Homo sapiens: one gene and its partner. The protein of the gene in region 1 purifies or fractionates together with the protein of each later gene. This does not show direct contact. Each region holds a gene or a part of one and is shown on either strand. Other genes may lie near its edges.

Evidence for each region.
Region 2: the proteins of NTAN1 (region 1) and MGAT5B purify together in Homo sapiens (affinity purification with mass spectrometry; one large-scale study listed by BioGRID and IntAct). This does not show direct contact.

Annotation. Positions count from the first base shown.
Region 1 is NC_000016.10:15,042,349-15,046,158, reverse strand, and holds part of NTAN1 (protein N-terminal asparagine amidohydrolase), read left to right. Parts: intron 1-1,751; coding exon 1,752-1,825; intron 1,826-3,810. UniProt on the Homo sapiens protein: N-terminal asparagine deamidase that mediates deamidation of N-terminal asparagine residues to aspartate. Required for the ubiquitin-dependent turnover of intracellular proteins that initiate with Met-Asn.
Region 2 is NC_000017.11:76,941,192-76,945,001, forward strand, and holds part of MGAT5B (alpha-1,6-mannosylglycoprotein 6-beta-N-acetylglucosaminyltransferase B), read left to right. Parts: intron 1-2,911; coding exon of another isoform or gene 2,912-2,983; exon of another isoform or gene 2,984-3,810. UniProt on the Homo sapiens protein: Glycosyltransferase that acts on alpha-linked mannose of N-glycans and O-mannosyl glycans.

The DNA of each region.
Region 1 (3,810 bases):
CATGCAGGCCCAAAATGGTATTTTCATTTTCCTATCATCTTGGCCCCCGCAGGGGGACGTAATCAATGCCATTATGTTGCCACACACTCTGCTCCGTGGTTCTCAGAACGTGCTTGTCAGCTCTTCCTGATCTGTTGTAGAACTGTGATCGCTCAGGGAGTCAGAGGCAAACCTGGTGGCCCAGTGGCAAAGCCATGGTGGTCGCAGCTCTCCTTACTGCTACTACTTGGAGTTTATTATGAGGCCCCTTGAGGCTGTGCCCTATGTTGGGTACATCCAAGCTTCTGGTTCATCCCTTAGGAAGATTTTGTGTCTGAGAAGGCAGCGTAAAGTCTGGCAACACTTTGCCGAGCGTGAATTCGCCCACTTGACGGGCTGTGGAAAAGGGGGTTAGTAGATGAGTGTGGGAAACACTGGGTTCAAGAAAGTTAGTTGGATTTTTCAGTCGCAGGACTTCTCAAGAGCTTCACTGTGCAATGCGCAGTGTGACTCCTAAGGAGGGCTTCCAGCAGGCAGTTGCCCAGTCTTTTTGTTTTGTTTTGTTTTTGTTTTAGAGCCGGGGTTTCACCCTGTCACCCAGGCTAGTCTCAAACTTCTGGGCTGAAGCATTCCTTCCACCTCTGCCTCCCGCGTAGCTGGGAATAGAGGTATATGCCAGCACACCTGGCCTCAAACCTTTTTTTTTTTTTTTTGAGACAGAGTCTGGCTCTGTCACCCAGGCTGGCATGCAGTGATGCAATCTTGGCTCACTGCAACCTCTGCCTCCTGGGTCCAAGTGATTCTCCTGCCTCAGCCTCCCGAGTAGCCGGGATTACAGACGCCCACCACCACGCCCAACTTACTTATTTATTTTTTCCCCCTGAGACGGAGTCTTGCTCGATTGCCCAGAGCTGGAGTGCAGTGGCGCGATCTCAGCTCACTGCAACCTCTGCCTCCCAGGTTCAAGCAATTCTCCTGCCTCAGCTTCCCGAGTAGCTGGGATTACAGGTGTGCCACCATGCCCGGCTAATTTCTTTTCTTTTTTTTTTTTTTTTTGAGATAGAGTCTTACTCTGTAGCCCAAGCTGGAGTGCAGTGGCACGATCTTGACTCACTGCAACCTCTGCCTCCCAGGGTCAAGCAGTTCTCCTGCCTTAGCCTCCCAAGTAGCTGGGACTACAGGCACATGCCATAATGTCCAGCTAATTTTTTTTTGTATTTTAGTAGAGATGGAGTTTTACCTTGTTGCCCAGGCTGGTTGCAAACTCCTGAGCTCAAGCAATCTGCCCGCCTCAGCCTCCCAAAGTGCTGGGATTACAGGCGTGAGCCACTGCGCCCGGCCTAATTTTTGTATTTTTAGTAGAGATGGGGTTTTACCATGTTGGCCAGGCTGGTCTCAAGACTCCTAACCTCAAGTGATCCGCCCACCTCAGCCTCCCAAAGTGCTAGGATTACAGATGTGAGCCACTGCACCTGTCCTGTGCCTGTGCTCTTCCAGAGCAAAGTTCCCCACTGGTGCATGGAGGCGGCATCACATTTGTGTTCAGATACGGATCCCCTCAGTCATCAGGGCCCCTGGGCAGGGTCCCCAGAAGCTCGCCACTGGCCTTGGCAGTGTGCTGCCGATACTTTCTTTTGCGGTGGCACGAAGATGACCTGCAGCTCTGCTGTAGAGCAAGTGTTCATGGAAACTGAGAATGAAAGTTCAAAGTGAGACCAGCGCACGCACCGGTGTCTTCTTCTGGCCTCTGACCCGTCTCATCTCTTTGCCAGGCTGGAAGTACACCTTGTTGGAGGCTTCAGTGACGACAGGCAGTTGTCACAAAAACTCACTCATCAACTTCTTAGTAAGTTCATTTTTTTTTTCTTTCCCCCAAATTGGACATAAATATGTACCCATATTTGCTTGGGTTAAAAATCCCAATTGGTACAAAACCCAAGAAGGGCACACCCACTTGGAGCAGCACAGAGAAACAGACTGCCCAGCTTGGAATTTCACAGAAAGACTGAATGCGTGGAGCTCATGTGTAGGGAGGGGTAGCAGGGCTGGGGACAAGATTTTCTACTAAAACAGCAGTGAACACATTCCAAAATAGTAAGTGCTCTGAATTGTGTGAAAGCAGAGCCACCCTCCCTCCTGGCAAAAATGTCCATTTTAATCTGCAGAAAATTAAAACACTGATGATACCATTTTTTCCCTATTAGCAAATTTTTTCTTTTTTTTTCTTTTTTTGAGATGTAGTCTTGCTCTGTTGCCCAAGTTGGAGTGCAGTAGCATGATCTCGGCTCACTGCAAGCTCTGCCTCCTGGGTTCAAGCAATTCTCTTGCCTCACCCTCCTGAGTAGCTGGGATCACAGGCGTGCGCCACCACACCCACCTAATTTTTGTATTTTTGGTAGAAATGGGGTTTCACCATGTTGGCCAGGCTGGTTGTGAACTCCCGACCTGGTGATGCACCTGCCTCGGCCTCTTAAAGTGCTGGGATTACAGGTGTGAGTCACCACACCTGGCCTAAATTAGCAAATATTTTCAAAAAAGAAAGAAAGAAAACATTGTCGTGTGTTGACTAACCACCAGGCCATGAAGCAAGCTTACTCATATGATGGTACAGCCTGTCTGGGAAGCAATTTGGCATCATGACTGAAGGCCTCACTCTGCCACTCAGGCTGTAGTGCAGTGGCGCCATCATGGCTCACTGCAGCCTCAACCTACTGGGCTCAAGTGATCCTCCCTCCTCAGCCTCCCAAGTAGCTGTGACTAGGTGCATGCCACCATGCCCAGCTGATTTTTAAATTTTTTGTGGAGACAGGGTCTCGCCATAACTCTTAAAAAAGGTTCATATCCGGCCGGGCACGGTGGCTCATGCCTGTAATCCCAGCACTTTGGGAGGCCAAGGCAGGTGGATCACCTAAGGTCAGGAGTTCGACACCAGCCTGGGCAACATGGTGAAACTCTGTCTCTACTAAAATTACAAAAATTAGGCCGGGTGCGGTGGCTCATGCCTGTAATCCCAGCACTTTGGGAGTTCAAGGCAGGCCGATCACTTGAGGTCAGAAGTTCAAGACCAGCCTGACCAACATGGAGAAACCCCGTCTCTACTAAAAATACAAAATTAGCCAGGCATGGTGGTGCATGCCTGTAATCCCAGCTACTTGGGAGGCTGAGGCAGGAGAACCGCTTGAACCCGGGAGGTATAGGTTGCGGTGAGCTGAGATCACACCATTGCACTCCAGCATGGGCATCAAGAGCTAAACTCCATCTCAAAAAAAAAAAAAAAAAATTAGCTGGGCATGGTGGCGCACGCCTGTAATCCCAGCTATTCAGGAGGCTGAGGCAGGAGAATCGCTTGAATCTAGGAGGTGGAGGTTGCAGTGAGCTGAGATCACACCACTGCACTCCAGCCTGGGTGACAGAGCGAGACTTCGTCTCAATAAATAAATAAATAAATAAATAAATAAATAGTTCATCCTTTGACCCAGTAATTCCCCTTGTGGAAATATATGCTAAGAAAATAATCTGAAATGTGCATAGAGATTTGAACCTGAAGATGAGCGGTAGAACATTACTTATAACAGGAAATCTGGTGTCATCAGAATAATAATTATGTAGTCGCTAAAAAATAACACATGAAAGGGTGAGAATTACATGGGAAAATACCTATGCACAAGCAAATCAGGATATAAAATTGTCGACTGGGCGCAGTGGCTCATTCCTGTAATCCCAGAACTTTGGGCAGCCGAGGCAGGTGGATCACTTTAGGTCACGAGTTCGAGACCAGCCTGGCCAACATGGTGAAACCCCATCTGTCTCTACTGAAAATACAAAAATTAG
Region 2 (3,810 bases), on another chromosome or scaffold:
AGGTTCTTGAAACTGCTGCAGGTGTGGCTTTGCAGCCTTTACACAGCACATTTCAAAATATAATGTGCATACAGAGCGTCTGTTAATGCGGGGCAACGCTTCGAGTAGCAAGGGGGCAGAACACCCTGGGTCTCCAGCGAACGTGGGTGCTGGTGTGTGTAGGTGCACATGTGTGGGCTGGGTGAGAGTGAGGAGGGGCTTGTGCCTGATGCTCATCTCCGCAGTGGACATGTTTGTGGCTTTTGATCGTGCCTTGTGCTTGGCTGGTTCCTTCATTCTGGGGAGGCTCAGACCTGGTGAACGAGAGAGCCTCCTCTCACTATGGTTCTCCTGGATCCCCTTCTTGCTATAGCTCAGATGATAGGCTGAGCAAAAATAATTGCTCCAGGCCGGGAATGGTGGCTCCCGCCTGTAATCCAGCACTTTGGGAGGCCGAGGCGGGCAGCTCACTTGAGGCCAGGAGTTTGAGAGCAGCCTGGCCAACATGGCAGGTTTCTCAAAGTTAGGGACTGTCTGAGATTGGATTCCTCCAGGAAGTAACATGAAAACAGGGATTTTAGCAGTAGCTTATTTGGGAGGCAACCCCAGGAAGCAGGCACGGAGGTGCCAGGTGAGGCAGGGTGTGTATCAGCAGGTGGCACCTGGAGCTCATCACCACGGGGGCCTCTGCAAGATGGGGTAGGTCACATCCCAGAGCTGTCCTGCCCGAGGAGAAAGAGGCTAGGGTAGGTATCCTCCTCTTCCCATCCATCTGTGGCTGAGGGTGGTGCCTGGGATGCCAGTTCCTGACACTTTTGGCCTGCACACAGATGGGCTCGGCAGGCCAGAGACAGCCTTGAGGTGGAGTCACCGGTGACGGAGGGTGGGGCGCTGATGGCCCTGCTGCAGGGAGAGGTTGTGTGACCTTGTAATGCTGGATCCTAGCAAAGCACCGGCCTAGACAGAGTGGGGAGGGATAAAAAGCTCCCTTGCTAGCTCTCAACGCAGTGTTGTCCCCTGTCCTGGGCTGGTGGCTTAAGTTCTGGCAAGGCCTTGTAGAGCAAAAGCAACTAGAGGCCAGGAGCAGGGGCTCACACCTGTAATCCCTGCACTTTGGGAGGCCGAAGCGGGCGGATCACTTGAGGCCAGGAGTTTGAGAGCAGCCTGGCCAACATGGTGAAACCCCATCTCTACTAAAAATACAAAAAGAAATTTAGACAGGCGTGGTGGCACACGACTGTGATCCACCAAGAGGCTGAGGCAGGAGAATCGCTTGAACCTGGGAGGTGGAGGTTACAGTGAGCCGAGATCATGCCACTGCACTCCAGCCTCGGTGACAGAGCGAGACTCCATCTCAAAAAAATTTTAAAAAGATAAATAGGAACTTGGCCCCTTGGCCACGCCCTAGGAAGAGGGCCAGGTATTTGACTGGTACCAGCTTATAGGCTTAAATGGGGCTAGAAGTACCAGTGCCAGGAAGGAGGCCTTAGGTAGGGACCTCAGTGCATAGGAAAGAAGAGTGAAGGGGGTTAACTGATTAATTTCACTGCTGGAAACTGACCAACCCCAGCCCCCTGCACGGGGAAGCTGGCAACAAGGCGTACAGGTAGGCAAGGGGGCTCCTGTCACCCCACAGTCTCCTCCAGCTTCTTCTCCCACTTCTCCACCCACCTCCCTCTGCTCTCCTCCCTCTCCCCTCCCCTTGCAAACCAATCCTCTAAGACTTCTCCTGCAGAGGGGCTCGGGCAAGGCTGGGGAGGGGGACTACATAGACTTTTCCAATGTGGGGAGCAGCGTTTGGCCCAACCTCCAAGACACATTGTTAAGCTAAAAGAGCGAGACACTCCACCTTGGGGATAACTTGCCCCCCCGGGAGGCCCAGAAAGCGGGGTCGGGGGAGGGCTGTGTGCATGAAGGTGCTGCGATAGTCGCGGGTATTTCTGGTGGGACACACAAGAAATTGATAACTGGGGGAAGGACTGACTGTCTGCGGTGAGAGGAAACTTCCCTTTCATTGCTTTCCTGTTTGGTTTTTTTTTACATGAACATCTGTTTAATTTTGTTAATTAGTTAATTAAAAAATAACAATTACAAAAGGATTAAGGAAGCAAGGTATTGCAAATCTGACCAGCTGAGATTTGTGCTGGGCCCCAAACCAACGGAGGCCCCTCTGCCTTCAGACCCCTCCCTTCTGTGGGCCCCACCCCTCCGCATAACAGCTCACCCCCTCAGCTCACAGCAGCTCAAAAACATTTATGTGCCCAAGAGTCACCCGGGGGGAGGGCCTTAAATGCAGATCCTCGAGCCTATCCCGCACCTTCCCATTTAATAGGACCCAGCTTCGCGTGGGAATCTGCATTTTAAACAAGAACTCTGGGTAATTCTAATCTTCCCATTTTATTATTTTTTTAAAATTTTCTTTTTATATTATTTGAATAGAGATGGGGTGGGGTGGGGGGGGGGTCTCATTTTGTTGCCCAGGCCAGTCTCGAACTCCTGGGCACAAGCAATCCTCCCGCCTCGGCCTCCCAAAGAGCTGGGATTACAGGCATGAGCCACCATGCCCGGCCTAATAATTCTATTTTAGAAAACAGATTTAGGGACAGCTGGTGGAGGCTGAGAGCAAATGAGGGCTGCCATCATGGGGAGTGGCTTGTTCTGCAAGTCATGTGGCCTTTTACAGGGAGAGGGAGGGAGGAGCGGCCAGGATGGGGAGAAAGAGGTGAGAAGAAGAGGTGAGAAGAGGGAGGTCTAAGACACAGCGAGCCGGCCCCGGGCCTGACAGCCATGGAAAACCAGGGCCCGGCACCCCTTCTGTGTCTCTGCACCTCCCTGGGTTTGCCTGTGGACATCTCTGTGTCCAGAGCAAGGCCATTCAAGGTGATGCCAACACTGGCTTCCGCTGCACCCCTCCCTGCTGTCATTCCCGCAGGCCAGCAGTTCCCAGGCAGGATCAGCACCTGTCACTCTGTCGAGACTGATTAGGGCGCACACCTGTAATTAGACCTAATGGGGGTAATTTCCAGGCCAGGCAGGCTGGCTCCTCCGGCAGGAGATTCGTGGCAGGCGGAACGTCGTCGTCGTCGTTGGCCGTGAGTGTTTGCTTCACACAGGGACCTTTGAATTATCTTGTGACAAGGGCTTACAGACACAGGAGCAAGAGTAACTCAGAGATTTGCTGTCACGGAGCCGGGGAGCGGCATTTGGAGGGGAAAGCTCTTCTCTGGGGAGTTTTATTTATAACCTGAGAGTGAAGCCTTGTCCCCGCAAGACCCCCAGAAGTGTGTGGGGCTCAGAGGCTCCCAGGACTTCGTCATGAGTGTTTAGGGAACCAGCTGGGGCAGCAACTGGCTGCCAGGGTCTTCTTGGGCCATCGGCTCGGGAATGAGAGCAGGTCGGGACAGGGCTGTGCAGAGCACGGGGCTTCAAGGCTGGGCTGGGGATGGGACCTGCAGATTCTCCGGGACTTCGAACTTGCCCCAGCGTTGAGAATACCCACGCACAGTGCAGGGGGACGTCAGTGCTGGGGCAATGTCCGGCTTCAAGGACATCAGTGACTGCCGCTTCCCTGGGACCCTTGAGTGTCAGGGATGTCCCCTTGGCCAGAGGCCCCAGGACGAGTCTCCTAAGAAGTGGGGTACACAGAAGGCAGGACCGAGCTTGGCGCAGTTGGACTTTCTAGCACCACCCAACGCTGATGAGGAAGAAAGGAGGTGGTTGCAGGCTTGAGTCAAACAGTTAGATTTCACCCACTGGCTAAAGACGGGAAAGCGGCCTCATTAGGAGATGGGCTGGGCCAGGTCAGGTGCCACCAGGCATGGTGGGGTGGGG